2 separate regions of the Homo sapiens genome follow, and region 2 is linked to region 1. The links come from fine-mapping of genetic effects on plasma protein levels. A gene starts in region 1. The other region holds a variant in brackets. All regions are shown on one strand. Distances are between the middles of the regions.

Evidence for each region. A credible set is the group of variants that fine-mapping cannot tell apart. PIP is the posterior inclusion probability: the model's chance that the variant is causal. The UK Biobank Pharma Proteomics Project read protein levels with antibody pairs (Olink). The fine-mapping took linkage between variants from a reference panel, not from the people measured, so its PIPs are less certain.
Region 2: its variant is the best candidate, but not a certain one, in a credible set for the plasma level of the PGLYRP2 protein (UK Biobank, PIP 0.65).

The regions. Positions count from the first base shown.
Region 1 is chr19:15,469,764-15,484,505 of GRCh38, reverse strand. PGLYRP2 (peptidoglycan recognition protein 2) reads left to right here and starts at 5,005. Exons shown (of 5, transcript NM_052890.4): 1 at 5,005-5,195; 2 at 7,898-8,968; 3 at 12,406-12,616; 4 at 14,577-14,742. The coding sequence starts at 5,135. RefSeq lists enhancers at 14,471-14,520, 14,531-14,620.
Region 2 is chr19:15,502,991-15,517,732 of GRCh38, reverse strand. It overlaps CYP4F22 (cytochrome P450 family 4 subfamily F member 22), which reads right to left and starts at 9,208. Exons shown (of 14, transcript NM_173483.4): 1 at 9,150-9,208. It also overlaps the pseudogene LOC100422106. RefSeq lists an enhancer at 9,064-9,564. The variant C/GAC (reference allele first, on the strand shown) is at 7,779.

The DNA of each region.
Region 1 (14,742 bases):
GACGTTGAGCCCAAGCCCAGCCCTGCCCCAAGTTCCTTCTCCTCTGGCCTCATCCCAGCCTTGCTTAAGATCTAGGGCCAGAGGCTCTGCCTATCTGTGCCAATGCTACAACTCATGAGAGCCGGCCCTGCTCCATAATCAGTGGCTACTCTTGTGACCCCTCTAGTCTCTCTGCAGCCTGGAGGGGCCTTGATTTTTTTTTTTTTTTTTTTTTTTGAGACAGAGTTTTGCTTTTGTTGCCCAGGATGGAGTGCAATGGCGCGATCTCAGCTCACCGCAACCTCTGCCTCCCGGGTTCAAGCAATTCTCCTGTCTCAGCCTCCTGAGTAGCTGGGATTACAGGTGCATGCCACCACACCAGCTAATTTTTGTATTTTTAGTAGAGACGGGGTTTCATCATATTGGTCAGGCTGGTCTTGAACTCCTGACCTCAGGTGATCTGCCCGCCTTGGCCTCCCAAAGTGCTGGGATTACAGGCGTGAGCCACCGCACCCGGCCAAGGGGCCTTGATTTATCTGACAAGTGGGCCTCCTGAGGTTGAAGGAAACCTGGGGTAGAGGTGATTCATTGTGGGATTTCCAGCCTTCTTTCTGCCTCCCAGGCCCAGCCCAGCCCTGATGCATTGGTGTGTGAGTGCCTGAATGTGGGTGTACATGTGTGTGTTTCAGATCCTGACCCCAAACTGGCCCCACATCATTCATCAGGCTTTTTGTGCATTTAGCAATCCCTCCCTGACACTCACTTGGTCTTGAGTCTGTGCTGGGCACTTCTGGACAGCCCCAAAAACTCAGCATCTCCTAGATTTGGGGAGACAAAACTGGACAAAGAACCTTCCAGCACTGTAAGCACAGCCTAGGTTGAAGGGAAGAACAGCAGGTCAGGGAGCTGGGAGGAGTAAGGGGAGCAAGGGGTAACCACAGAGGCTCCCTGGAGGAAGGGTCCTGCCCCAGAAGGTCACAAATCCTACATAGACCCTAAGGAAAGAGCCTGCCATCCATGACATGCCCCTGGCTTAAAACAAGGCAGTCTCTGCCCCAACTCCAAGCTTTAAAGGGAAATCAGGTGGGGTGCAGTGGCTCACGCCTGTCATCCCAACACTTTGGGAGGCCAAGGCAGGTGGATTACCTGGGGTCATGAGTTCAAGACCAGTTTAGCCAATGTGGTAAAACTCCATCTCCACTAAAAATAGAAAACTTAGCTAGCCTTGGTGGTGCATGCCTGTAGTCCCAGCTACTCTGGAGGCTGAGGCGAGGGAATCACCTGAACCTGGGAAAAAAGAAGAGTTACTAAGAAAATCGTATGGAAGAGGAAGTATGTTTACTATTCATTAAGTAGAAGTGTGTCATCATAAAGGTCTTCATCTTCATCGTCTTCATGTTGAATAGGCTGAGGGGGAGGAAGGGAAGGGGTTGGTCTTGCTGTCTGAGGGGTGGCAGAGGTGGAAGAGGTGGAGGAGGTGGAAGGGGAGAGAGGAGAGGCAGACACACTCCATGTAACTTATTGGAAAAAATCCACGAGCCAGGTGCAGTGGCTCATGCCTGTAATCCCAGCACTTTGGGAGGCTGAGGTGGATGGATCACCTGAGGTCAGGAGTTCGAGATCAGCCTGCCCAACATGGTGAAACCCCATCTCTACTAAAAATACAAAAATTATCCGGGCATAGTGGCAGGTACCTGTAATCCCAGCTACTCAGGAGGCTGAGGCAGGAGAATCGCTTGAACCCAGGAGATGGAAGCTGCAGTGAGCTGAGATTACGCCACTGTACTCCAGCCTGGGGGACAGAATGAGACTCTGCCAGAAAGAAAGAGAAAAAGAGAAAGAAAGAGAAGAAAGAGAAAGAAAGAAAGAAAGAAAGAAAGAAAGAAAGAAAGAAAGAAAGAAAGAAAGAAAGAAGGAAGGAAGGAAGGAAGGAAGGAAGGAAGGAAGGAAGGAAGGAAGGAAGAAAGAAAGAAAGAAAGAAAGAAAGGAAGAAAGAAAGAAAGAAAAAAGAAAGAAAGGAGGGAGGGAGGAAGGGGGGAGGGAGGGAAGGAAGGAAGGAAGGAGAAGGGAAGAAAGGAGAAGGAAGAGAAGGAAGAAAATATGGAAGAGGAAGTATATTTACTATTCATTAAGTAGAGAATCATCATAAAGGTCTTCATCCTCACCGTCTTCATGTTGAGTAGGCTGAGGAGGAGGAAGAGGAGGGGTCTTGCTGTCTCAGGGGTGGCAGAGGTGGAAGAGGAGGAAGGGGAGAGGAGAGGCAGGCACAGTCCATGTAATTTTTATTGAAACAAATCCAGATATAAGTTGACCCTCACAGGTCAAACCCATGTTGTTCAAGGGTCAACTGTACTCCGTATGACACTCTAGTGGTGGACATATGTCATTATACATTTGTCCAAACCCATAGAATGTACACCACCAAGAGCAAACCCTAATGGAAATGATGAACTTTGGGTGATAATGATGTGTCAGTGAAGGTTCATCGATTGTAACAGATATACCATTCTGGTGCTGGATAGTGATAATACGAGAGTCTGTGCATGTGTCAAGGCAGGGAGTAGAACTCTCTGTAACTTCTGCTCAATTTTGTCACGAACCTAAAACTGCTCTAGGCCAGGCATGGTGGCTCACGCCTGTAATCCCAGCACTTTGGGAAGCTAAGGCAGGAGGATCCCTTGAGTCCAGGAGATGAGACCAGCCTGGCCAACATAGCGAGACCCTCATCTCTATAAAAAATTAAAAATAGAGGCCGATGCGGGTGGATCACCTGAGGTCAGGAGTTCAAGACCAGCCTGGCCAACATGGTGAAACTACATCTGTACTAAAAGTACAAAAATCAGCCGGGAGTGGTGACGGGGACCTGTAATCCCAGCTACTCGGGAGGCTGAGGCAGGAGAATAGCTTGAACCTGGGAGGCAGAGGCTGCAGTGAGCCAAGATTGTGCCACTACACTGCAGCCTAGGCAACAGAGCGAGACTCTGTCTCAAAAAAAAAAAAAAAAAAAAAAAAAGCCTGTAATCCCAGCACTTTGAGAGGCCAAGACAGGTGGATCACCCGAGGTTGGGAGTTTGAGACCAGCCTGGCCAACATGCTGAAATCCCGTCTCTACTAAAAATACAAAAATTAACTGGAAGTGGTGGACGGGCACCTGTAATCTCAGCTCCTTGGGAGGCTGAGGCAGGAGAATCACTTGAACCTGGGAAGCAGGGCTGCAGTAAGCCAAGATTGCACCACTACACTCCAGCCTGGGTGACAGAGGGAGACCCTGCCTCAAAAAATAATAATAATAAAATAAAAAATAAAGCTGGGTGCAGTGGCTCACGCCTGTAATCCTAGCATTTCGGGAGGCCGAGGCAGGAGGATTGCTTGAGGCCAAGAGTTTAAGACCAACCTGGCCAGCATATCAAGACTCCATCTTTAAAAATAATAATAATAATAAAACTGTTCTAAAAAAGTCTTAAAATTATTTATCGGCCGGGCATGGTGGCTCACGCTTGTAATCCCAGCAATTTGGTAGGCCAAGTTGGGTGGATCACCTGAGTCAGGGGTTCAAGACCAGCCTGGCCTACGTGGCAAAACCCCGTCTCTACTAAAAATACAAAAATTAGCCAGGCATGGTGGCGCATGCCTGTAACCTGAGCTACTTGGTAGGCTGAGGCAGGGAGGCAGGAGAATTGCTTGAATCTGGGAGGTGGAGGTTGTAGTGAGCTGAGATCGTGCCATTGCACTCCAGCCTGGGTGACAGAGCGAGACTCCGTCTCAAAAAAAAAAAAAGTTATTGATGACTTAGATTTTCAACACTGCCTTAAATTTTGCGGCAAAGAGGATGCCTCAACCTAGTCCCTGCCTCAGCCCACAACCTTCATATGGTTCTACCAGGCAAAGCTCCTATCCCCAAATCCTGGGAAACGAGCTTGGAGGAGGACATTGTCTCTTACTCCCATGGGAAGTGTCCCCCATTCACTCTATCACTTAGCACCCTACATCCTGAGCTTCCACTATGTGCCCAGCTTTTTTCTGGGAGGTCCCCAGAAAGAGGACACCTGAGGAGGCCCCAGGGGTGGCCCCCAGGGGAATCCCAGGCCTGGCTCAGGCTGGACATTCCCAGGCCTGCCCTGGCTGAGTCTCCAGCTGGTGGGTCTCCTGGAAACTCCCCGGGCTGGTTTTGAGGTGGGAGCCCCACAGGGAAGCAATTTACATACACAACAGCCCAGTCATGTCAACCTGCCCCATCTGATGCCAGAATAAAGGGGAGATGGGTCCATTCTGCAGGTCTCAGTCATGGGCACCCGGAGAAGAGGAAGGACATTTCACTGTCAGCCCAGGTGAGTCCAGAAGCCAGCTCCTGGAACAATGCCAGGGTCCTGAACACTCAAGCTCAACCCCTGCTCTCAGCTACTGCTGGTGGCTTGAAATCAAGGGCTGGAACTGGATGAGAGGTGACAGCCCCTGGTCCCCATGGGCTCAGAGCAGGCCTCAGCAAACACTGTCCTCGGCCCCTGCACCCATGCTCTGCCTGAGCCTGAAGTGTTGGTTGCAAAAAAAAGCAGGAGGCAGTGCCAACTTCAGGCCTCAGCAAACACTGTCCTCAGCCCCCGCACCGATGCTGTGCCTGAGCCTGAAGTGTTGGTTGCAAAAAAAAGCAGAAGGCAGTGCCAACTTCAGGCCTCTGCTTCTCTCCTCTCCCTCAACACAGCCGGTCTTACCAGTACAGCAGGCGGCAGCTGAGAGTCCCCTCTGGTGGCCAGCAGCGGCTACAGAGCCGTCACTATGGGGAGGGACAGGACTTGAGGGGTTGCCTCGGTCCACCTCACTGGAGAATGGGCAGAGTTTATGGAGTCTGAACCACCTGGTCTCCAGGCCCCTCTGGGGATGGGCCTGGCTTACTGACCACTGACCTCAGCCTAGGAGGGACAGAAGAGACTGGGGGAGACCAGGATGCCCAGATGACCTTGACCCAGGGTACGCTGCCCCATGTCCCTGCTGCCTCCCGCCCACAGCTCTACGAGAGGCAGGTCTGTCATTCGCCGCTGGACTTTGACAGTGGTCAAAGGCTCTGCTCAGTTCTCTGTGCCTGTCTCCCTCCAGCACTGCCGAGGTTCTCTGCCGAGGCCAACCAGAAATACCCCTTGGAAGCTGGAATCCTGCAACAATGGCCCAGGGTGTCCTCTGGATCCTACTCGGATTGCTACTGTGGTCAGACCCAGGGACAGGTGAGTCAGGGGGCAGAGTCCTGGGACCAAACCTCTTGGCTCTGCAGAAGGCGTACTGCTGTCCCATCTATGTCTTGCCCTGCATGGAGTGAGGCTGGAGACTCAAGCTCTCAAAGAAGCTCCAGCATGGGGACATAGATATTCCCAGCTCCACAGAGTCAAGGCAAGGATAAGGGAAGGAATCTGGGGCCTGGAGAGCAAAAGTAGGGAAGGCTTCTTGGAGGAGGAGACATAAGAGCTAGGCTAGGAAGAAAGAGAAATGATTTGGGGGAGAAGCCAGAAAGGGCATTTTTTGCAGAGAAGAGCAAAGCTACACAGGTTAGGTGGTGGACTGGAGAAGAACCTAGATTCTAGACCAGGAGAGTGTGTCGAGTAAGACTTCCTGGATTCAAATTCTACTACTGGCCAGGCCTGTAATCCCAGCACTTTGGGAGATCAAGGCGGGCAGATCACTTGAGATCAGGAGATCGAGACCAGCCTGGCCAACATGGTGAAACCCCATCTCTACTAAAAATACCAAAAATTAGCCAGGCGTGGTGGCAGGCACCTGTAATCCCAGCTACCCAGGAGGCTGAGGCCAGAAAATTGCTTGAACTCAGGAGGTTGCAGTGAGCTGAGCACTACTGCACTCCAGCCTGGATGATAGAGCAAGACTCCGTCTCAAAAAAAAAAAAAAAAAACAAAGGCAAATCCTGCCTCTGCCACTTCCTTCCTGTGTGACCTTAGGCAGGTAACTTAACCTCTCTGTGCTTCAGATGCCTCATCTGTAAAGGGACACCATCTTAGTCCCTTTGTGCTTCTATATAGGCCAGGGTACCTGAAACTGAGTAAATTTGTAAAGAAGAGAAATTTACTTTCTTGCAGTTCTGCAGGCTAGGAAGTCCCAAATGCCAGTGCTTTGATCTTGGACTTCCCAGCCTCTAGAACTATGAGAAATAAATGTCTGTTCTTTTTTTTTGTTTTTTAGACAGAGTCTGACTCTGTCGCCCAGGCTGGAGTGCAGCAGCATGATCTCAGCTCACTGCAACCTCCACCTCCCGGGTTCAACAGATCCTCCTGCCTCAGCCCCCCAAGTAGCTGGGATTACAGGTGCCCGCCACCGCACCCGGCTAACTTTTGTATTTTTAGTAGAAACGGGGTTTCACCATGTTGGCCAGGCTGGTCTCAAACTCCTGACCTCAAGTGATCCGCCTGCCTCGGCCTCCCAAAGTGCTGGGATTACAGGCATGTGCCAGCACACCTGGCCAAATTTCTGTTTTTCATAAATTACCCAACCTCAGAGATCTGTTATAGCAGCACCAATGTACTAAGACAGGGGCTAAAAGGACCTACCTCACAAGAGTTGTGAAGACTAACTGCGTTAAATTATTAATATATAAGTCACCTAGACTAGTAGCTAGCACATAGTAAATGTTTACTGAAAGTTAGCTATTATTTGATAACCCATCTCTGAACCAGCTCTGAGCCTAACTTAGCATTTCTAGGTTTGCAGTTCAGCCACTGACATTTCCCCAACATGGCACAAGCCCATCCTGCTCTTCCCCCTGCCTCCCAGGCTATTTTATTTTATTTTATTTTATTTTAATTTAATTTTATTTTATTTATTTTATTTTATGATGGAGTCTCACTCTGTCACCCAGGCTGGAATGCAGTGGGGGGTTCTTGGCTCACTGCAACCTCCACCTCCTGGGTTCAAGCAGTTCTCCTGCCTCAGCCTCCTGAGTAGCTGGGGTTACAGGTGTGTGCCACCATGCCCAGCTAATTTTTGTATTTTTAGTAGTGACGGAGTCTCGCCATGTTGATCCGGCTGGTCCTGAGCTCCCGACCTCAGGTGATCCACCCGCCTCTGCCTCCTAAAGTGCTGGGATTACAGGCGTGAGCCACTGCGTCTGGCATTTTTTTTTTTTTTTTTTTTTTTGAGACAAAGTCTCACTCTGTCACCCAGGCTGGAGTGCAGTGGCGCAATCTCGGCTCACTGCAACCTCCACCTCCCATGTTCAAGTGATTCTCCCGTCTCAGCCTCCCAAGTAGCTGGGATTACAGGCACACACCACCATGCCTGGCTAATTTTTGTATTTTTATTAGAGATGGGGTTTCACGGTGTTGGCCAGGCTGGCCTTGAACTCCTGATCTCAGGTGATCCACTCACCTCGGCCTCCGAAAGTGCTGGGATTACAGGCCTAAGCCACCACAGCCAGTCCCAGGCATCTTTCAAAATACCTTTCCCTCTAACATCCCCAATTTTTAACTTCAATTCATCACAAAAGACCATCCATCTCTCCCTCTCACGATCTGGGGACTCTTCCACTTTTGTCCACTGCAATGTCACTACCTACCTTCTGCCACCTTCATCTCTCACCTCCACACTGTCTCCCCTTTTCTATCCTGGCACCCCAAAAATCCATTTCCTTATGGCAGCCAAACAAATCTAAGCCTAAGAAAGGAGTCTTAGAATGCCAGGTTCGTCACACCTCTGTCCTGCTCATAAATCTGCCATGGCTCCCCAGTACTCACAGACAGTCTGAGCTCCTTAACCAACAGGCAATAGTCTGTGTACCTCACTTTCCTCATCTACACAAGGATAGTGTTGGGGGTCATGGGGTTATCAGATGGAGGGCTGGGAGCATTGGGTAGATGTGGAATCAATACAAGGAGGCTCAGGAATGGGTGGGGCTGGGCTAACACATTCTTTCCTCCTGCAGCCTCCCTGCCCCTGCTCATGGACTCTGTCATCCAGGCCCTGGCTGAGCTGGAGCAGAAAGTGCCAGCTGCCAAGACCAGACACACAGCTTCTGCGTGGCTGATGTCAGCTCCAAACTCTGGCCCCCACAATCGCCTCTACCACTTCCTGCTGGGGGCATGGAGCCTCAATGCTACAGAGTTGGATCCCTGCCCACTAAGCCCAGAGCTGTTAGGCCTGACCAAGGAGGTGGCCCGACATGACGTACGAGAAGGGAAGGAATATGGGGTGGTGCTGGCACCTGATGGCTCGACCGTGGCTGTGGAGCCTCTGCTGGCGGGGCTGGAGGCAGGGCTGCAAGGGCGCAGGGTCATAAATTTGCCCTTGGACAGCATGGCTGCCCCTTGGGAGACTGGAGATACCTTTCCAGATGTTGTGGCCATTGCTCCAGATGTAAGAGCCACCTCCTCCCCAGGACTCAGGGATGGCTCTCCAGATGTCACCACTGCAGATATTGGAGCCAACACTCCAGATGCTACAAAAGGCTGTCCAGATGTCCAAGCTTCCTTGCCAGATGCCAAAGCCAAGTCCCCACCGACCATGGTGGACAGCCTCCTGGCAGTCACCCTGGCTGGAAACCTGGGCCTGACCTTCCTCCGAGGTTCCCAGACCCAGAGCCATCCAGACCTGGGAACTGAGGGCTGCTGGGACCAGCTCTCTGCCCCTCGGACCTTTACGCTTTTGGACCCCAAGGCATCTCTGTTAACCATGGCCTTCCTCAATGGCGCCCTGGATGGGGTCATCCTTGGAGACTACCTGAGCCGGACTCCTGAGCCCCGGCCATCCCTCAGCCACTTGCTGAGCCAGTACTATGGGGCTGGGGTGGCCAGAGACCCAGGGTTCCGCAGCAACTTCCGACGGCAGAACGGTGCTGCTCTGACTTCAGCCTCCATCCTGGCCCAGCAGGTGTGGGGAACCCTTGTCCTTCTACAGAGGCTGGAGCCAGTACACCTCCAGCTTCAGTGCATGAGCCAAGAACAGCTGGCCCAGGTGGCTGCCAATGCTACCAAGGAATTCACTGAGGCCTTCCTGGGTGAGGAAGTTCCCCACACCCTGTGATCCTTCCCATTACAGACACAGACGCCCCCACCCCGTATATTCAGGGAAGTTGAGGACTAGGAGAGTCCAGAGGGGGCAATAAGGGATCTGGTCGGGGGTGGGTGGGACAGCTGCACAGGTGAGGAAATGCCAGAGTTGGGCCTTGAAGGATGAATAGGAGTTCATCTCATTTTGTTTTGCTTCATTATATTTATTTGCATTAATTTATGGGGTACAAGTGTAACCTTGTTTCTCGCATAGATTGCATAGTGGTCAAGTCTGGGCTTTTAGGTACCCATCACTCCAATAACATACATCCACCCATTAAGCAATCTGTCATCATCCTCCCTCCTCTCTCTCCCTCACCCTTCTGAATCTCCACTATCTATCTTTCCACACGCTACATCCATGCATACACATTATTTAGCTCCCATTTATAAGTGAGAACTTACGGTATTTGTCTTTCTGTGTTTGACTTGTTTCACTTGAGATAATGGCCTCCAGTTCCATCCATGTTGCTGCAAAAGACATTCTTTCTTTTTTTTTTTTTTTGAGTCTCTCTCTGTCGCCCAGGCTGGAGTGCAGTGGCACGATCTCAGCTCACTGCAACCTCCGCCTCCTGGGTTCAAGCAATTCTCCTGTCTCAGCCTCCTGAGTAGCTGGGACTACAGGCATGTGCCACCATGTCTGGGTAATTTTTTGTATTTTTAGTAGAGACGGAGTTTCATCATTTTATCAGGGTGGTCTCGATCTCCTGACCTCGTGATCCACCCACCTTGGCCTCCCAAAGTGCTAGGATTACGGGCGTGAGCCACCATGCCCAGCCAACATTATGTCATTTTTTACAGCTGAGTAGTATTCCATTTCCTGCCGACCACTGTAGACAACCTCCTGGCAATCACCCTAGCTGGAAACCTGGGCCTGACCTTCGTCCAGGGCTCTCAGACCCAGAGCCATCCAGGCCTGTAATATATATCATATTTTCTTTATCCAATTCTCTTTTGATGGACAGTTAAGTTAATTTCTTACCTTTGCTATTGTGAATAGTGCCCTGATCAACATGTGAATGCAGGTATCTTTTTAATATAATGATTTATTTTCCTTTGGGTAGATATCCAGTAGTGGGATTGCTGGATTGAATGATAGTTCCAATTTATTATTATTTTTTTTGTTTTGTTTTGTTTTGTTTTGTTTTTAGACAGAGTTTCACTCTTGTCTCCCAGGCTGGAGTGCAATGGCACAATCTCGGCTCACTGCAACCTCCACTTCCTGGGTTCAAGCGTTTCTCCTGCCTCAGCCTCCTAAGTAGCTGGGATTACAGGTGCCTGCCACCATGCTCGGCTAATTTTTGTATTTTTAGTAGAGACAGAGTTTCACCATGTTGGCCCAGGCTGGTCTCAAACTCCTAACCTCAGGTGATCCACCCACCTCAGCCTCCCAAAGTGCTGGGGTTACAGTCGTGAGCCATCACCCGGCTTTTCTGTCTTTTTAATAATAGCTATTCTGATTAGAGTAAGATGATATCTCATTGTGGTTTTAATTTGCATTTCTCTGATGATTGGTGATGTTGAGCATGTTTTCCTTTGCCTATTGGCCATGTGTATATCTTCTTTTGAAAAATGTCTATTAATGTCTTTTGCCCGCTTTTTAGTGGGTTTCTTTCTTTCTTTCTTTTTCTTTCTTTCTTTCTTTTTCTTTCTTTCTTTCTTTCTTTTCTTTCTTGAATTGTTTGAGTTCCTTGTAAATTCTGGGTATTAGTCCCATACCAGTGCATAGTTTGCAAATATTTTCTCCCATTCTGAAGGTTGTCTGTTCGTTCTGTTGATTATATCTTTGGTGTGCAGAAGCTTTTTGGTTTAATTAAGTCCCATTTGTCTACTTTGTTTCTTTTGCTCTGTGCTTTTGAGGTCTTAGTCATGAATTCTTTGCCTAGCCCAATGTTCAGAAGCGTTTTCCTTAGGTTTTCTTCTGGTATTTTAGAGTTTCAGGTCTTACATGTAAGTCTTTAATCTATCTTGAGCAATTTTTTTTTTTTTTTTTTTTTTTTTTTTTTTTTTTTTTTGAGACAGAGTTTTTGCTCTGTTGCCCAGGCTGGAGTGCAAAGATGTGATCTCAGCTCACTGCAACCTCTGCCTCCTGGGTTCAAGCGATTCTCCTGCCTCAGCCTCCCACATAGCTGGGATTACAGGTACCTACCACCATGCCCGGCTAATTTTTGTATTTTTAGTAGAGACGGGGTTTCACCATGTTGGCCAGGCTGGTCTCAAACTCTTGATCTCAGGTGATCCACCCACCTCAGCCTCCAAAATTGCTGGGATTACAGGCGTGAGCTAGCGCATCTGTCCTTGAGTTAATTTTTGTATATGGTAAGAGTTAGGGGTCCAGTTTCATTCTTCTGCATATGGTTGGCCAGTTGTCCCAGCACCATTAGCACCATTTACTGAATAGGCAGTCCTTTTCCCATTGCTTATTTTTGTCGACTTAGTTGAAAATTATTGTTTGTAGGTGTGCAGCTTTACTTCTGGGTTCTCTATTTCATTCCATTGGTCTATGTGTCTATTTTTGTAACAGTACCATGCTGTTTTGGTTACTATAGTATTGTAGTATAATTTGAAGTCAGGTAATGTGATACCAGGCTCGTTTTGCTTAGAATTGCTTTTGCTATTTGGGCTCATTTTTGGTTCCTTGCGAATTTCAGGATAGTTTTGTCTAATTCTGTGAAAAATGACTTTGATATTTTGATAGAGATTGCATTGAATCTGTAGATTGCTTTGGGAAATCTGATTTCTCTTTTTCTAGAAAATGAGGTCTCACTATGTTGCCCAGGCTGGTCTTGAACTCCTGGGCTCAAGCAATCCACCCACCTCGCCTCCCAAAGTGTGGGATTGATTACAGGAGTGAGCCACCATGCCTGCCCCCACCTCCAATTTTTTTTTGGGGGGGACAGAGTCTTGCTCTGTCACCCAGGCTGGTGTGCAATAGCACAATCTCGGCTCACTGCAACCTCCACCTCCCAGGCTCAAGCAAGTTGTCTCATGCCTCAGCTTCCCAAGTAGCTGGGATTACAGGCATGTGCCACCATGCCTGGTTGATTTTTGTATTTTTAGTAGAGACCGGGTTTCACCATGTTGGCCAGGCTGGTCTCAAACTCCTGACCTCAAGTGATCCACCCACCTCGTCCTCCCAAACTGCTGGGACTACAGGTGAGACCCACTACGTCCGGCCCACCCCCAATTTTTTTTAATAAAAATAAAATAGATTTAGTTGAGTATAGTTAGTTGGTCCCCAGGGAGGACCAATGTGGGGTGAGACTGGACCCTTTCCAAATCTGAGAGGAGGCTGAGGGATGGTCTGTATGTGCGCTTTAATGCGGGTGGAGGAACAGGCAGAGAAACAGTTCCTGACCCCAGCCTTCAACCCCCTTGCCTGTAGGATGCCCGGCCATCCACCCCCGCTGCCGCTGGGGAGCGGCGCCTTATCGGGGCCGCCCGAAGCTGCTGCAGCTGCCGCTGGGATTCTTGTACGTGCATCACACCTACGTGCCTGCACCACCCTGCACGGACTTCACGCGCTGCGCAGCCAACATGCGCTCCATGCAGCGCTACCACCAGGACACGCAAGGCTGGGGAGACATCGGCTACAGGTAGGAGGGGCCCGACCGGGGAGGGGGCGGGGCCCACGTTCGGGGATGGGGTCTGAGTGGGCGGAGCCTGATGCAGGGGACCGGGCTTGAACCCGAGGAAAGCTGGCAAGACCAAGGAGGAGTCCTGATAGGTAGAGCAAAGTTGGAGAGGTGGCGTGGCTTAGGCTAGGGGCGGGGCCTTAATAGGGACCGGGAATAGCTAAATCATGGGACTCCAGTCAGGGTAGAGAACTAGTACAGGAGGCGGGATCTGGGAGAGGAGCGGGACCTGTGGCAGAGTCTGGGTCTGGGGCCAGGCAGAGATGGCCTAAAACAGACAAGGAGGCCTGGTGCGGTGGCTCCCGCCTGTAATCTCACCACTTTGGGAGGCTGAGAAGAGAGGATCGCTGGAGCCCAGGAGTTCGAGACCAGCCTGAGCAATATAGGAAGACACCCCCCCACACCACCCATCTCTACAAACAAAAAAAACTTAAAAAGGCCAGGCGCAGTGGCTCACGCCTGTAATCCCAGCACTTTGGGAGGCCGAGGCGGGAGGATCACGAGGTCAGAAGATTGAGACCATCCTGGCTAACACGGTGAAACCCCGTCTCTACTAAAAAATACAAAAAAATTAGCCAGGCGTGATGGCGGGTGCCTGTAGTCCCAGCTACTTGGGAGGCTGAGGCAGGAGAATGGCGTGAACCCGGAAGGCGGAGCCTGCAGTGAGCCGAGATCGCGCCATTGCACTCCAGCCTGGGCGACAGAGCGAGACTCCGTCTCAAAAAAAAAAAAAAAAAAAAAAAAAAAGCTGGGCATGGTGTTGCGCGCCTGTAGTCCCAGCTACTCGGCAGGCTAAGGTGGGAGGATCGCTGGAGCCCAGGAGTTCGAGGCTTGAGTGAGTTATGATCGCATCTCTGCACTCTAGCCTGAGTGACAGAGCGAGAACCCGTCTCGAAAAGAAGAAGGAGGCCGGGAGCGGTGGCTAACGCCTGTAATCCCAGCACTTTGGGAGGCTGAGGCGGGTGGATCACCTGAGGTCGGGAGTTCCAGACCAGCCTGGCCAACATGGAGAAACCCCGTCTCTACTAAAAATACAAAATTAGCCGGGCGTGGTGGTGCATGCCTGTAATCCCAGCTAGTCGGGAGGCTGAGACGGGAGAATCACTTGAACCTGGGAAGCGGAGGTTGCAGTGAGCCGAGATCGCGTCGTTGCACTCCAGCCTGGGCTACAAGAGCGAAACTCCGTCTCCAAAAGGGAAGGGAAGGGAAGGGAAGAAGGGAGGGGTGGCGAGGGGAGGGGAGAAGGCTGGGCACAGTGGCTCACGCCTGTAATCCCAGCACTTTGGGAGGCCGAGGAGGGCAGATAACCTGAGGTCAGGAGTTCGAGACCAGCCTGGCCAACATGGCGAAACACCGTCTCTACTAAAAATAAAAATTAAAAAAAAAATTAGATGGGCGTGGTGGCGGGTGCCTGTAATCCCAGCTACTCCGGAGGCTGAGGCAGGAGAATCGCTTGAACCCGGGAGGTGGAGGTGGCAGTGAGCCGAGATCGCGCCCTTGCACTTCAGCCTCAGCGACAAGAGTGAAACTCCATCAAAAAAAGAAAGAAAGAAAGAAGGAAGGAAGGAAGGAAGGAAGGAAGGAAGGAAGGAAGGAAGGAAGGAAGGAAAGAAAAAAAACCCAAAAACAGAAAAGCTCTCTGAATTGGGCAAGAACTGGGCTTGAGAAAAGGCAGAGGTGGGGAGGAGAAGGGCAGAAAGGGGCGTGCCAGTACTGAAGGGCGGATCCAGAGAAACCGAACGGTCCTGGAGTGGCAGCTGGTGTGAGAGTGGAACAGAGCTGGATGGGACACAGGCAGCGCGACCGCGCGGGTCTTGGGGTCGGTGGCCCTTGGCACACCAACAGAATCGGGGAGGGGAGCGGATAAGGGCCCGGGTCCCCCTCACGCCGCATGGTGCTTGCTTCTCCCTCCCCTCTGCAGTTTCGTGGTGGGCTCGGACGGCTACGTGTACGAGGGACGCGGCTGGCACTGGGTGGGCGCCCACACGCTCGGCCACAACTCCCGGGGCTTCGGCGTGGCCATAGTGGGCAACTACACCGCGGCGCTGCCCACCGAGGCCGCTCTGCGCACGGTGCGCGACACGCTC
Region 2 (14,742 bases), 33 kb before region 1:
TGATGATTTTCACTATCATTCACTCCATCTTCCCAGTAAGCCTTAAAGAGAGCTGGAAGACTTCTGAGTGAAATCACAGCTAGAGCCCCCAACTCGCACCCAGGAAAATCCCAGCTGAAATCTCAACAAAGGAAATGTCTTCTGGAATGAATGAAATGGGAAAGAATTGGGATAAGAGAAGGTGCCAGCCCTAGAGAGGGATCCCTGCTCCAGGTGGCTGGGTACATGGGGAGATGGGTGCTTGGGGAGGGTGAGAGAGGGGAGTTGTGGAGCCCTGTGTCCGCTTCACCTCCCCGTCCCCCTACCAGACATGGGCTGAAGTCCTTCCCAGGACAAACAACCCCTGGCTCTGCCCCCAGGCAGGACCACATGTTGTGAGTCCCCAGTTGGGACACTCTCTGGAAGCCTCCAGTTTCTCCACTACAAAATGGGAATCATGACAAGAGGTCCACCAGATGCCCATGGGAAGACCACCATGAAAGGTACATTGGGGAAGTCCTATACTTTCCACAGCTGGGGTCCTCCTGTCCCTCAAACAAGAACACTTCTGTCTGGCACCCACAAAAAAAAATAGTGCAGCCACTGTGGGGAAACCCTAGAATTATCATTTGAGGTCGGGCACGGTGGCTCACACTTGTAATCCCAGCACTTTGGGAGGCTGAGGTGGGCGGATTGCCTGAGGTCAGGAGTTCAAGACCAGCCTGGCCAACATGGCAAAACCCCTTCTCTACTGATAATACAAAAAATCAGCCATGCGTGCCTGTAATCCCAGTTGCTTGGGAGGCTGAGGCAGGAGAATCGCTTGAACCAGGTAGTCAGAGGTTGCAGTGAGCCAAGATCGTGCCACTGCACTCCAGCCTGGCAACAGACTCCGTCTCAAAAAAAAAAAAAAAAAAAGAATAACATCTCTTCAGGCCACGTACCCCATGGACCTCTCATGAGATCCTCTGAGCAAGTGGACTATCTTTCCAGAGTCCAGGGATTCCAGGTTGAATACAAAGACTTCCCCAAAAACAACAAGAATGAATTTGTATCTCTTATCCATTGCTCCTCTCAGCCGCCTCTGATCAGCCATAGTGTTATAAGTAAAATGTTTATTCAGAAATAGAATGCTTGTTCCTCGGTACTGCAAGTAAAAATCAGCATTCAGATAATAAGTTTTCTCAGCAAGGCAATTTTACTTTCTGCATAAAGGGTGCTCCTTGCAGATGGAATAATGGCGAGAGCACACCTGAACAAAGGAGGGAAGCAATTTTTATCCCTTATGCAGTTTGTCCTTGCTACTGTGTCCTGTCTCCATTGGCTGAAGCAAGACCTCACAATCTAAATTAAACCTGACTGGCTAATAATTTAAAACTTTCCTAAATAGGTAAAGGCAATAGAGAGCAAAGGAAAAGAGGAAGTTGCTTACAAAAGGACTTAGAAAAGCAATAATATTTCCAAATAAGGAAAGGGCATGGGCTGCGAGCTGGGACATGCCTGTGAGCACATCCAGCACAGATATCTTGGTTAAAGTACAAGGACGTAGAATGTACTATGTGCCTGTGAGCATGTCTAGTACAAATATCTTGGTTAAAGTACAAAGACATAGAATGTACTTATTCTCTTATATCTAACACATAGTATTGGCAAGGATGTTGAGTCCTGCTATGATATGGCTGCACTAAACATCTTTTTCTTTTTCTTTTTTATTTTTCAAGACCGAGTCTCGACCGGGCGCGGTGACTCATGCCTGTAATCCCAGCACTTTGGGAGGCTGAGGCGGGCAGATCACGAGGTCAGGAGATCAAGACCATCCTGGCTAACATGGTGAAACCCCATCTCTACTAAAAATACAAAAAATTAGCCGGACGTGGTGGCGGGCGCCTGTAGTCCCAGCTACTCAGGAGGCTGAGGCAGGAGAATGGCGTGAACCCAGGAGGCAGAGCTTGCAGTGAGCCGAGATCGCGCCACTGCCCTCCAGCCTGGGTGACAGGGCGAGACTCCATCTCAAAAGAAAATAAAAAAAAGACAGAGTCTCGCTCTGTTGCCCAGGCTGGAGTACAGTGGTGCTATCTCAGCTCACTGCAGCCTTTGCCTCCCGGGTTCCAGCAATTCTCCTGCCTCAGCCTCCTGGGTAGCTAAGATTACCGGCATGCGCCACCACACCTGGCTAATTTTTGTACTTTTTAGTAGAGACGGGGTGTCACCATATTGGCCAGGCTGGTCTTGAACTCCTGACCTCAGGCGAACCATCCACCTCGGCCTCCCAAAGTGCTGGGATTGCAAGCGTGAGCCACCGTGCCTGGCCAGCTGCACTGAACACCTTAAAGTTGCTGTCTGAGTTGGACCAACAAAGTACAGAGATGCCAAGAACAGGAAATGGATCAATGTCTGTGTGTGGGAGGTGCTGAACCTTTTCTGGCCATGAACCATTATAAAATCCCAACATATACACTGAAAATATTAAAACTGCTTTGAAAATTTGGAATTTCTGATACCTCTAGTGGGCCGAGAGACGGTGGGTAAAGGATGTGGGCAGCAGCAGGGAACACAACAGGGGAGGTGGCTGTGGCCGGGCTGGACTGTGCTGGGGTTTGTTGTGACGGCCACTCGGTGACCTGGCTGTCCCTACGCAATACCAGCTGCCTTTGGGGAAGAAGGGCTGCCCAGCCAGCTGGCTCTCCTGGGGCACCAGCAGATCCACGCCCTGGGCACCTTCCTGTTTGGTCTTTTTTTTCCCGTGTGAAAGAAGAAACTGAAAGCATGACCCCTTCTCAAGCTGGCTTAGTTGGGACAAACCCTGGACAGCCACACCAGAGAGAGGCCTTCAACCAGCCCCAGAGCTAAAAGCACCAGAGAAAGTCAAATGCTTCCTATTCAGCATGACCTAACTTCTAGTGTGCCACGGCCCCACCACTTCCTGCAGTGCCCACACCATCACCACTGCTTTCTCTTCCAACAGTGATCTGTATTCTTAGTTTCATTATTTCCTTTTTATTGGTATGACACTATATAAAATTTTCCTCCTTCCTGCCTTCCTTCCTTCTTTCTTTCTTTCTTTTTCTTTCTTTCTTTCTTTCAAGACAAAGTCTCACTCTGTCACCCAGGCTGGAGTGCAACGGCACAGTCTTGGCTCCCTGCAACTTCTGCCTCCCAGGTTCAAGCAATTGTCTGCCTCAGCCTCCCGAGTAGCTGGGCCACCACACCCAGCTAGTTTTTGTACTTTTAATAGAGACGGGGTTTCACCATCTTGGCCAGGCTGGTCTTGAACTCCTGACCTCGTGATCCACCCGCCTCGGCCTCCCAAAGTGCTGGGATTACTGGCATGAGCCACCGTGCCCGACGACACTATATAAAATTTTCATTTGAGAGTTTCTCAACTGTATCTAATTATATCGCACAGTTTGGAAACTTTTCTGAGACTGACTTTATCAATAATCTAACCGACAAAGATCATATCCACGTGTATGTAGTTAGACATTTTTATTTCATTGACTAACCCAGCACCATTTCAGTGATGCAAATTACGTGCCCTATGGTTCAGCTGAAACAGTCCTGGACTTTCAAAAACCTTGAATAAGTCTCCCACAGTTGTATAAATTGGACAATTTAGGAATTTTAAACTTTAGATGATCATTTGCTTCCATTTTTATTTTATTTTTATTTTTGTTAATGCAAACAGGACTTAAACAAATGAACTTTGATCTCCATTTTAAATATTCTTTAAGAAAATCATGTGTCTATACATACGGCTCTTGAGGACTTAGCTTTCACTACACTACAGGATATGATCTCCACATAGTTCACATAAAACTGCAGACTGATTTTCCAGAGTGCTCGATACTATTAATTACATCTCGATTAGGGCTGAAAAGTATGACCTATGTTTCTTTATACAGTTGTGTTGCTTTTGATGTTGTGTTACTATACACAGAAGTGTGTGCACTGGGCCGGGTGCGGTGGCTCACGCCTGTAATCCCAGCACTTTGGGAGACCGAGGGGGGTGCGGATTGCCTGAGCTCAGGAGTTCGCAACCAGCCTGGACAACACGGTGAAACACCATCTCTACTAAAATACAAAAAAATTAGGCTGGGCGTGGTGGCTCACGCTTGTAATCCCAGCACTTTGGGAGGCCGAGGCGGGCAGATCACGAGGTCAGGAGATCGAGACCATCCTAGCTAACACGGTGAAACCCCGTCTCTACTAAAAATAAAAAAAATTAGCCGGGCGAGGTGGCGGGCGCCTGTAGTCCCAGCTACTCGGGAGGCTGAGGCTGAAGAATGGCGTGAACCCGGGAGGCGGAGTTTGCAGTGAGCCGAGATCGCGCCACTGCACTCCAGCCTCGGTGACAGAGTGAGACTCTGTCTCAAAAAAAAAAAAAAAAAAAAATATATATATATACAAAAAATTAGCAGGGCGTGGCAGCATTCGCCTGTAGTCCCAGCTACTCAGGAGGCTGAGGCAGGAGAATCGCTTGAACTCGGGAGGCAGAGGTTGCAGTGAGCCGAGAACATGCCACTGCACTCCAGCCTGGGTCACAAAGCGAGATTCCGTCTCAAAAAAATAAAAATGAAAAAAGAAGTGTGTGCACTGAGGCTCTGTGTGTGGTCCATATGGAAAGCCTGGTACCCCTGCGAGTTAAGTACTGCCTCCATTCATCGTTTACACTGGAGTTTTTCTCCTCATGGAATGCGAGTAAAACTTAGTGTTTGTCACCAATAAATGGTAATACAAAAAAGAGAGAGAGAGAGAGAGAGAAAAGCTTTGAGGACCCAGGAAAAATGGTGGCAGCCTCTGGAAAGGGCCTGAAAGAACTCGGGACAGGGGTGGAAGGGAAACTTAAGTTTACTATCCACTTTTCCAGTCGTTTTGGTTTCCTATACCATGAGCACATGTCACCCATTCAAAAAAAATTGAATCAATTATAAAAATTCATTAGTTTACTGCATGACACAAAGAGTGAATCCTAATGTAAACTATGGAGTTTAGATAATGGAGGAAAGGTATCAGCCAGGTGAAGTGGCTCATGCCCGTAATCCCAGCACTTTGGGAGGCCAAGATGGGAGGATCACTTGAACCAAGGAATTTGAGACCAGCCTGTGCAACATAGTGAGACTCCGTCTCTACTAAAAAACAAAAAAATCAGGCCAGGCATGGTGGCTCATGCCTGTAATCCCAGCACTTTGGGAGGCTGAGGAGGGAGGATCACTTGAGGTCAGGAATTTAAGACCAACCTGGGCAACATGATGAAACCCTGTCTCTACCAAGAAAAAAAGAAATAGCTGGGCATGGTGGTGGATGCCTGTAGCCCCAGCTACTTGGGAGGCTGAGGCAGAGGTTGCAATGAGCCAAAATCTTGCCACTGCACTCCAGCCTGGGGGACAGAGTGAGACTCTATCTCAAAAACTAAAATTAATTTAATTTAATTTAATGTTCACTTTTGACTTCAACAGGCCTGGGTTCAAATCTCAGCTCTCCTATTCCCTAGGTTAGCAGCCTTGGGTGAACCCAGTCCCTGCCATCAGCCTCCCTTTGCCAATCTGTGAAATGGGTTGATAATAACAGGACCTACCCCCTAAGGTTTTTGGGACGGCTCAGTGAAATGAGGCATGGAAAGGCCTTGTCACGTAGCTCACAAAATGTTAGCCATGATGACTACTCCTATTATTGCTATTTGATAGAAGTGAGAGCAATTCAAAGGTGACACCCTCAGAATGTTGTGGGCGGCTGGCATGTCCACTCCCTATCTACACCGGCCCCCGATCTCATCCAGCAGGCCCGCCTTGGTAGAGGTGGCCCTGCCCTGCCAGGGCCCGCATTATCTGGTGGTGGTGAAAGCCAGCGACTGGCTCCGTGTCCCGGCCCACGCCCAGGTCGCGCTGGTTTGTCAGGTTGGCCCAGCCGTTCACCCACTGAGGACTTGTTATACAAGGTGTGTGGGCTCCCAAGAAGGAGTGGAGGGCACGGACCCAGGCCGACGCCAGGTACGAGATACATGCCTCTTCTTGAACTGCAGGGGCTGGGACCAGCCAGGAGCCTGATGGAAGAGCACCCCAACGCTGGCCCCATCACCCCAAATCCCAGCCCTCCTTTTCACTCCAAGCCTGTAGTCAAGGCAGCCTGCCCCCGTCCCCACTGATTCATGGTGCCACCTTGGCTTCCTCAACATCAGAGGGCTGGCTTACCCCAGAGACTCACATATTCCCCCAAAGTGCCAGACCCCAGAAGGCTGGAGCTGAGAGGGGACTTCTAAGTTGTTTTGTTGTTGTTGTTGTTTGTTTGTTTTGTTTTTTAGACATGGTCTTGCTGTGTCCTTCAGGCTGGAGTGCAGTGGTGTGATCTTGGCTCACTGCAACCTCCCCGTCCTGGGCTTGAGTGATCCTCCCACCTCAGCATCCTGAGTAGCTGGGACTACAGGCGCCTGCCACCATGCTCAGCTAATTTTTTTTTAATTTTTTTGTTAAAAAAAATTAATATAGTGCTGGGCGCGGTGGCTCATGCCTGTAATCATGCCTGTAATCTCAGCACTTTGGGAGGAGGGAGGATCACCTGAGGTCGGGAGTTCGAGACCAGCCTGACCAACATGGAGAAACCCCATCTCTACTAAAAATACAAAATTAGCCAGGCATGGTGGCACATGCCTGTAGTCTCAGCTACTCAGGAGGCTGAGGCAAGAGAACAGCTTGAACCCGGGAGGCAGGGGTTGCAGTGAGCCAAGATCACGCCATTACACTCCAGCCTGGGCAACAAGAGCAAAACTCCATCTCAAAAAAAAAAAAAAAAATATATATATATATATATATATGGTATCCCTATATTCCCCAGGCTGGTCTCAAAGTCCTGGGCTCAAACCATCCTCCAGCCTTAGCCTCCCAAAGTGCTGGGATTACAGGCATGAGCCACCACACTCAGCCTGGCTTCTAGGTCTTCAGTCTCCACTCAGCACTCTAAATTTCTAAGGTTCTGAGAAAGAGCTTCAGAGTCATTTATGACTAATGAGGGCAGGGCCAAGTTGGCAAATGTGGTAAAGGAGACAGTCCTATCGCAGCTTTGATCATATTCAAACCTTTTGCTAATAATTTCCTTGGCCCAAAGGGGATCCTGGCAGAAAAAGAAGTTTTAAAACCACTAATAATCTAGACCATTGCAGGGTTGTAATTGTTTCTGCCCACCATCCCAAGTGTGGCCACACCTGGACATGAGCCTCAGAAAAGATTCTATAAAGGTCTGCCTCTTTGCTGTGCGACCTCGGGTGAGTGTCTGCACCTCTCTGAGCCTCAATTTCTTCATCCATTAAGACAGAAGCCCTATTTACCCACCTCATGGGGCTGCAATCTTCCAGGCACATAGTAAGCCTTTGATCAATGATATCTCTCATTACCGTTGGTGCTGCCATCACGTTCATTATTGTGACCTGGCCATCTGGGGTTTGGAGAATCAGGTCCAAGTTTTATCAACAAGGAGAGATGAGTCAGGCGCAGTGGCTCATGCCTGTAATCCCAGCACTTTGGGAGGCTGAGGCGGGTGGATCACTTGAGCCCAAGAGTTCAAGACCAGCCTGGGCAACATGGTGAAACCCCATCCCTACCAAAAATACAAAAAGTAGACAGGAGTGGTGGTGCATGCCTGTAGTCCTCCATACTCAGGAGGCTGAGGTAGGAGGATTGCTTGAACCCAGGAGATCGAGGCTGCAGTGAGCTATGATTATGCCACTGCACTCCTGCCTGGGTGACAAAGTGAGACCCTGTCTCAACAACAACAACAAAAAAAGAAAGAAAGAAAGAAAGAGAGAGAGA[C/GAC]AGAGAAAAGAAAGAAAGAAAGAAAGAAAGAAGGAAGGAAAGAAAGAAAGGAAGGAAGGAAGGAAGGAAGGAAGGAAGGAAGGAAGGAAGGAAGGAAGGAGAGATGGGTCCCATTCCCTGAATGCCTCTCAAGTCATCCAAGCCCCTCTGCAGATACCAACCTGGGTCACCGCCAGACACCAGGCCAGAGTTAATGTTACTGTTCAGAAACCCAAGCTGGGCCATTTGGTGATGCCGGGGACATCGGAAAGTGGACTGAGGCTTTGGGGTCAAACAGGGCTTGTTTTTTCAAATCCCAGCTCTCCCACTGGGCACTGGGTATCCACAGGCACAGGCTTCTTCTCTCTGGCCCTCAGTTTCCGTGCCTGTAAAATGAGGGTGGTAGGGAAGATTTGGGGAGGTTCCTTCTCTTTGGGGTTTGGAGTTACACAAGAAGGAGTTTGATGCTGCCAGCCCTGGCTGGGCACAGCTCCAGGACCTAGAAATAAGGGGTGGAGCAAGGGGCACAGGGTAGGAGGAATTTCGGGTACGCAGCCAGCCCTGGCCATCTCCTTTGCCTACAGGGCGGTGAGACTCACAATGAGTGCATGAATGAGCTGTGAGCGGGCAGATGAACCAGGAGAGATGCCCTGAGCCTAGGCCTCTCCAGCCTGCGACTCCCCAGGTGGCCAGCCTCGGCCAACTTGCATACCCAGGCTGGGCCAGGCCCCTGGGAGGCCAGAAAACATCTTCCTTCCAGCATCTATCAGACGAAGATCACCTGGGACCAACCCCAGGACCTCACACAACCCTCAGAGCCAACTCTCGGGGCCAGAAGAACACCGTCTTTTCATAGAGGGGCTCTGCGTCTGGCATGGATGGGCAGAGGGTTCCTGATAGCAGTTGAACCACAAGCCTAACCCCATCGGTTGAATGTACTACAACCTCCCCGTCAAGACAACGTGCAGTGGTGAAATCTCAGGGCGAATCCCCATTCAGCCCCAAAGAGGCGTCCCAGGGCGGGGCTTGAACCCATCTGGGATGTCCTGACTACCAGAGGGGTCTTTTGGAGGCCCCCTGCCCATCACAGATACCCAGAGAAAAGGATGCGCCTAGGACTCCGAGGCGCACACAGAAAAAAAAAAAAAGAAAACAACTCACAAATGCAGCAAACGTCGGGGACACACCCACGTGCCCCTCTCCCCACGAGTGCCCCGGGCATGCAGCCCCGTCCTGGGTCCTGGGGGGGTCCCCGTGGCCGGCTGCGCCCCGCCCGCCGCCGCGCGCAGACCTTCGCCCTTGCCCCGCCAGCACCGAACCGCGCGAGCCTCGGGTTCCAGCGCAGCGCCGCGGCCGCGCTCAGGTTACAGCCCTCACCACGCGCGCACTCACCCGCGGGTCTCAGCCTCCTGCCCTCGATCCGGATCCACCGGCGCCACTACCTGGGATCTGACCGCGCCGTCCCACGGCCCAACCCTTTAACCCCGCCCGGCCGTGCCGAGGGGTCCGCCCCCGGACATCCCGCCCCGGGCTCCCGCAGGGTTCTGGGCGGGGACTCCAGCGCTGCCCCCTAGAAAAGGAGAGAACAAGAAATAGGCGTGTGGAGGGGTGGAGAGCGATGGAAAGAGAGAGAGACTGAGACTGAGATGGAGAGATGAAGAGAGACAGAGACTTGGACACCTAGAAGTCCCAAACCATCAGGCTCCCCGCCCTCCTGCCACTGCTGGGCCGCATTAGCGCCCAAGTCCCGCTCTGGACCACACTCCTCCCACACCAACACCCCCCATGGCCCTTACTTCCAGGTTTGCTCCCAAGCTTGGACAGCGATCTCTAAACCATCACCCCCTGGGGCCCCACTGACCCCCCCGAGAAGCCTCCTCTGGGGCCCTCAGGAATTCTCTGGCTCCACCAGCCCTTGGGAACCAGCCCTTCCCCTCTCTCTGGATCCTGGGCCTAAGCTTCCCCGGCACCCACCCCTGGAGGCTCTGCAGCCTCTTCCTCCAGGAAGACCTCCAACCTCAACAAGCAGCACCAGACTGGTTCTGCTCCCCGCCAACCCGCCCTCCGCCACTCCTCCCCACCCACTGCCAGACACCTTGACCCTCTGACCAGGATGTTGTCCTTGGCCAACCCGTCTACTCCAGATGTGTGGAGACAGAGTCAGCTCCGCCTCTGGATGTGTCTGTCCTCCGGAGTCGGTGGGTGGATGTGTGGCTGACCTTAGCACGTGGGCAGACAGATGAGAAGACAAGAATCTCCACTTGCCCCAGCAGGTGGTAAACTTAGAAGACTTCCTTATCCCTCTTTTTTCTAAGAATACGCTCTCATTTGGTGCTGGGCCCTTGGAAAGAGGGCGTGGGAGGTGTGGGGCATGTCTCCTGGTGAAGAAGAGGAGACACAAGTAATTGAAGTTTTGCTGCTTGGAGGAGGCAGACATGAGGTCAGGGAAGGCGACGTGGAGGATGTGACACTTGAGCTGGGACTGCATGGAGAGGTTGGATTTCAACAAGTGCAGGAGAGGGGGTAGAGCTCAAGCACAGAGAAACTGGAGGGTGTGACTTAGCAGATGGCTTTCCCTGGCCTTGGAGTGTGAGAGGTGTGGAGGCTGGAGGGATGCAGGAGTTGACTGTGAAGGCCAGTTTGAATGGCTGGATCTTGATCTGGTGGGCAGTGGGGAGCCATGGATGGTGCTTGAGTAGGGGAGGTGCCCCCTGTTAGTTGATTGGTCTCACTCTGTCATCCAGGCTGGGGTGACTCCTGGGCTCAAGCCATCCTCCTGCCTCAGCCTCCTGGGTAGTTGGGACTACAGACACGTGCCACCACACCCAGCTAATTTTTTTTTTTCATTTTTTTAGAGACAGGGTCTCACTATGTTGCCCAGGCTGGTCTCAAACTCCTGGGCTCAAGCCATTCTCCCAGCTCCTAGAACTTTTAAAAAAAAATATTTATATTTATTTGTGTCTTTAATCTTTTTTACTTCTGAGGAAGAGCTTATTTTATTAATTTTTTATTCATAATTAACGCAGCATGAAAGCCTATTTTTTAGGGATATGAATTTTGTTTTGCCAGTAATTCTGGCCAAGGGGGAGCTTACTAGAAGCACTTTGGAAAATGCAGAGATCCACATAGAGTGAAGTTTGAGAGGGACCCCTCCAGTGGCTGCAGGGGACAGAGACAAAGGGTGGGGGTAGCTGAGACCCAGGAAGGGGTTAAGGATGAGGTCCCGGAGGTCATCTCCACTGACCACTGGCTAAATACGGGGTTCTAGGGAAGAGAGAAGGAAAAGAAGCCATCTGCCTGGCTTCTCTGCTCTCAAAGAGCTGGAGACCAGGAAGGAGGAGTAAGTGAAAGGGCCTGGAGCACTAAGAGTGGGCTTCGTGGATGTGTGGCCTTGAGCTAGTCACATGGCTGCTCTGAGCCTCCATCTCCCTATGCATAAAATGCAGAAGAAGCCCATGTGATGAGGTGGTGTTCAGCCCCACTCCTGGCACAGGGCACAGGCTGGACAAACATCAGCTGTTTGAGTTTGCAGTTGATTGGGGCCATCCCAGCAGAGTAGAGTTTTCCGCCAGGGAATGTTTAGCAACATCAGGAGATCATACTGCTGGGTGGGGGGTAGAGGTGGGGGTGGGGGAATTCAGGGTGGTGCAACTGACATCTAGTGGGTGAAGGCCAGAGATATTATTCAACATCCAGAACACCCCCACCCCCAAAGAATAATCCAGGCTCAAATGTTGACAGTGCTAAGATTGGGAAACCGTGGGTCACCTTCAGTCTAAAAGTCTCGTGGGTCTCATGGGATGACATTCAGGGAGACATCCAGGAGGCAGTTGGGCTCAGCGTGAGGGCACCTCCTGAGAATTGCATCTGTGAGTCACCTGCCTTGGGAAGACGGTGGATGGCATGGCAGTAGGTCAGCGAGATCACTCAGGAGGGAGGTGGGCAGAGAAGAGGAGGGGAGGGCAGAAGTGGGGATCACAGCCACTTTTTTTTTTTTTTTAAGATGGAGTCTCACTCTGTTGCTCTGTTGTCCAGGCTGGATACAGTGGCACAATCTTGGCTCACTGTAACCTCCGCCTCCCGGGGTCAAGCGATTCTCCTGCCTCAGCCTCCCGAGTAGCTGAGACTACAGGTGCCCACCACCAAGCCCGGCTAATTTTTGTATTTTTAGTAGAGACGGGGTTTCGCCGTATTGGCCAGGCTGGTCTCAAACTCCTGACCTCAAGTGATCCACCTGCCTTGGCCTCCCAAAGTGCTGGGATTACAGGCATGAGCTGCCGTGCCTGGCCTTTTATTTTATTTTTTAATCAAACAGAGTCTTGCTCTGTCACCCAGGCTAGAGTGCAGTGGTGCTATCTTGGCTGACTGCAACCTCCACCTCCCGGGTTCAAGCAATTCTCCTGCCTCAGCCTCCTGAGTAGCTGGGATTACAGGCTTGCACCACCACGCCCGGCTAATTTTTGTATTTTTAGTAGAGACAGGGTTTTGCCATTTTGGCCAGGCTGGTCTCAAACTCCTGACCTCAGAGATAATAGCTACATTTATAGAGAGGACAGGCAGCAGCACTGAGCTGGAGCTGGAGATGGAGTTTGAGAAGAGTGGTAGTAGGGACCATCACTGGCACCTAGACGTCAAGGAACCCAAGCTCTAGAGCTGTGTGGTTCCCATGCCACCAGAGCCCTCAGCCTGCCACAGCCCAGGGCTCAGTGGGGTGAGGTTGAAGTGGGAGGGGAGGAAGTGGAGGCTGTGGCTGGACTTGGGAAATGGTAGTAGAAAGCTGTCTGGGAGTGGATGTGGCAGGTCATGGCAGGGAGTCAAAGATAAAAAGAAGAGGGATCTCGCCATACCCTGCTGGTGGCAACGTAAAATGGTTCAGCCACAGTGGAAAACAGTTTGGGAATTTCTCAAAAAGCTAATCAGAATTACCATAGGACCCAGATATTCCACTCCTAGGTATACACACACAATAACTGAAAACAAGTACTTGCCAGGTACAGTGGTCTACAGCTGTCATCTCAGCACTTTGGGAGGCTGAGGCAAGAGAGCATCACTTAAGCCCAGGAGTTCCAGACTAGCCTGGGGAACAACATAGCAAGACTTCATTTCTACAAAATATAAAAAATTAGCTGGACATGATGTGCGTACCTATAGTCCCAGCTACTTGGGAGGCTGAGGTGGGAGGATAGACAGCTTGAGACTGGGAGGCTGAGATTGCAGTCAGCTGAGATTGTACCACTTCACGCCAGCCTGGCTACAGAATGAGACCCTGTCTCAAAAAAAAAGAAAAAGAAAGAAAGAAGAGACAGAGAGAGAGAGAGAGAGAGAGAGAGAGAGAGAGAGATAAAGAGAAAGAAAGAGAAAAGAAAACAGTTACTCACACGTAATTGTAGAGGAGTGCTCGGGATAGCACGATTTATTATAGCCAAAGGTGGAAACAACCCAAATTCCACCAACAGATGAATGGATAAACAAACTGTGGTCCATCCATACAATGGAATATTACTCAGTCATAAAAAAGAATAAAGGCCGGGCGAGGTGGCTCTTGCCTGTAATCCCAGCACTTTGGGAGGCCGAGGCAGGTGGATCACCTGAGGTCAGGAGGTTGAGCCAGCCTGGCCAACATGGTGAGACCCTGTCTCTACTAAAAATACAAAAATTATCTGGGCACGGTGGCGGGCACCTGTAATCCCAGCTACTCGGGAGGCTGAGGCAGGAGAATCGCTTGAACCCGGAAGGCAAAGATTGCAGTGAGCCAAGATCGCACCACTGCACTCCAGCCTGGGGGACAGAGTGAGACTCCGTCTGAAAAAAAAAATACAAATAAAAATAAATAAAACCCTGATCCATGCCGCAATGTGGATGAGCCTCATAAACATTGTGCTGAGTGAAAGAAACCAGACACAAAAGGTCACACAGTGCATTATTACATTTATATGAAATATTCAGACTAAGTGAATTCACAGAGACAGAAAGTGGAGTAGTTGTTGCCAGGGGCTGGGGGAGGGGGGATGGAGAGAGAAGCCCATACCCAGGGGGAGTGGTTATAGGACCTCCTTTTGGGGTGACAAAAACACTGGAACTAGATAAAGGTGATAGTTGCACAACATTGTGAATGCACTAAATGTCACTGAATTCTACACTTTAAAGGGTTAATTTTATGTTATGTGAATTTCACCTCAATTTTTTTTTTTTTTTTTTTTTTTTTTTGAGACAGAGTCTCACCTGTTGCCCAGGCTGGAGTGCAGTGGTGCGATCTCAACTCACTGCAAACTCCGGCTCCTGGGTTCAAACAATTCTCGTGCCTCAGCCTCTCAAGTAGCTGGGATTACAGGCCTGTGACACACAGCCAGCTAATTTTTTTATATTTTTAGTAGAGACGGGGTTTTGCCATGTTCGCCAGGCTGGTCTCAAACTCCTGGCCTCAAGTGATCCTCCCTCTTCAGCCTCCCAAAGTGCTGGGATTACAGGCATGAGCCACTGTGCCCGGCCTCACCTCAATTAAAATAAATACTTTATATATATATATATTATATATATATAATAATTATATATATATAATATATAATAATTATTATATATAATATATATAATAATTATATATATAATTATTATTATTGGGAGGTCGAGGCAGGAGGATTGCTTCAGTCCAGGAGTTCAAGACCAGCCTGAGCAACATAGCCAGACCCCATCTCTAAAAAAAATAATTTTTTGTAAAAATTATAAAAAATAACAAATTAGGCATAGTGGTACATGCCTGTAGTCCCAGCTACTCAGGAGGCTGAGGTGGGACGATTGCTTGAGCTCAGGAGTTTGAGGTTTCAGTGAGCTACAATTGCACCACTTCACTCCAGTCTGAGCAACAGAGTGAGACCCTGTCTCTAAAAACAAAAGAGGGCCAGGCGCGGTGGCTTATGCCTGTAATCCTAGTACTTTGGGAGGCCGAGGCGGGCAGATCTCCTGAGCTCAGGAATTCGAGACCAGCCTC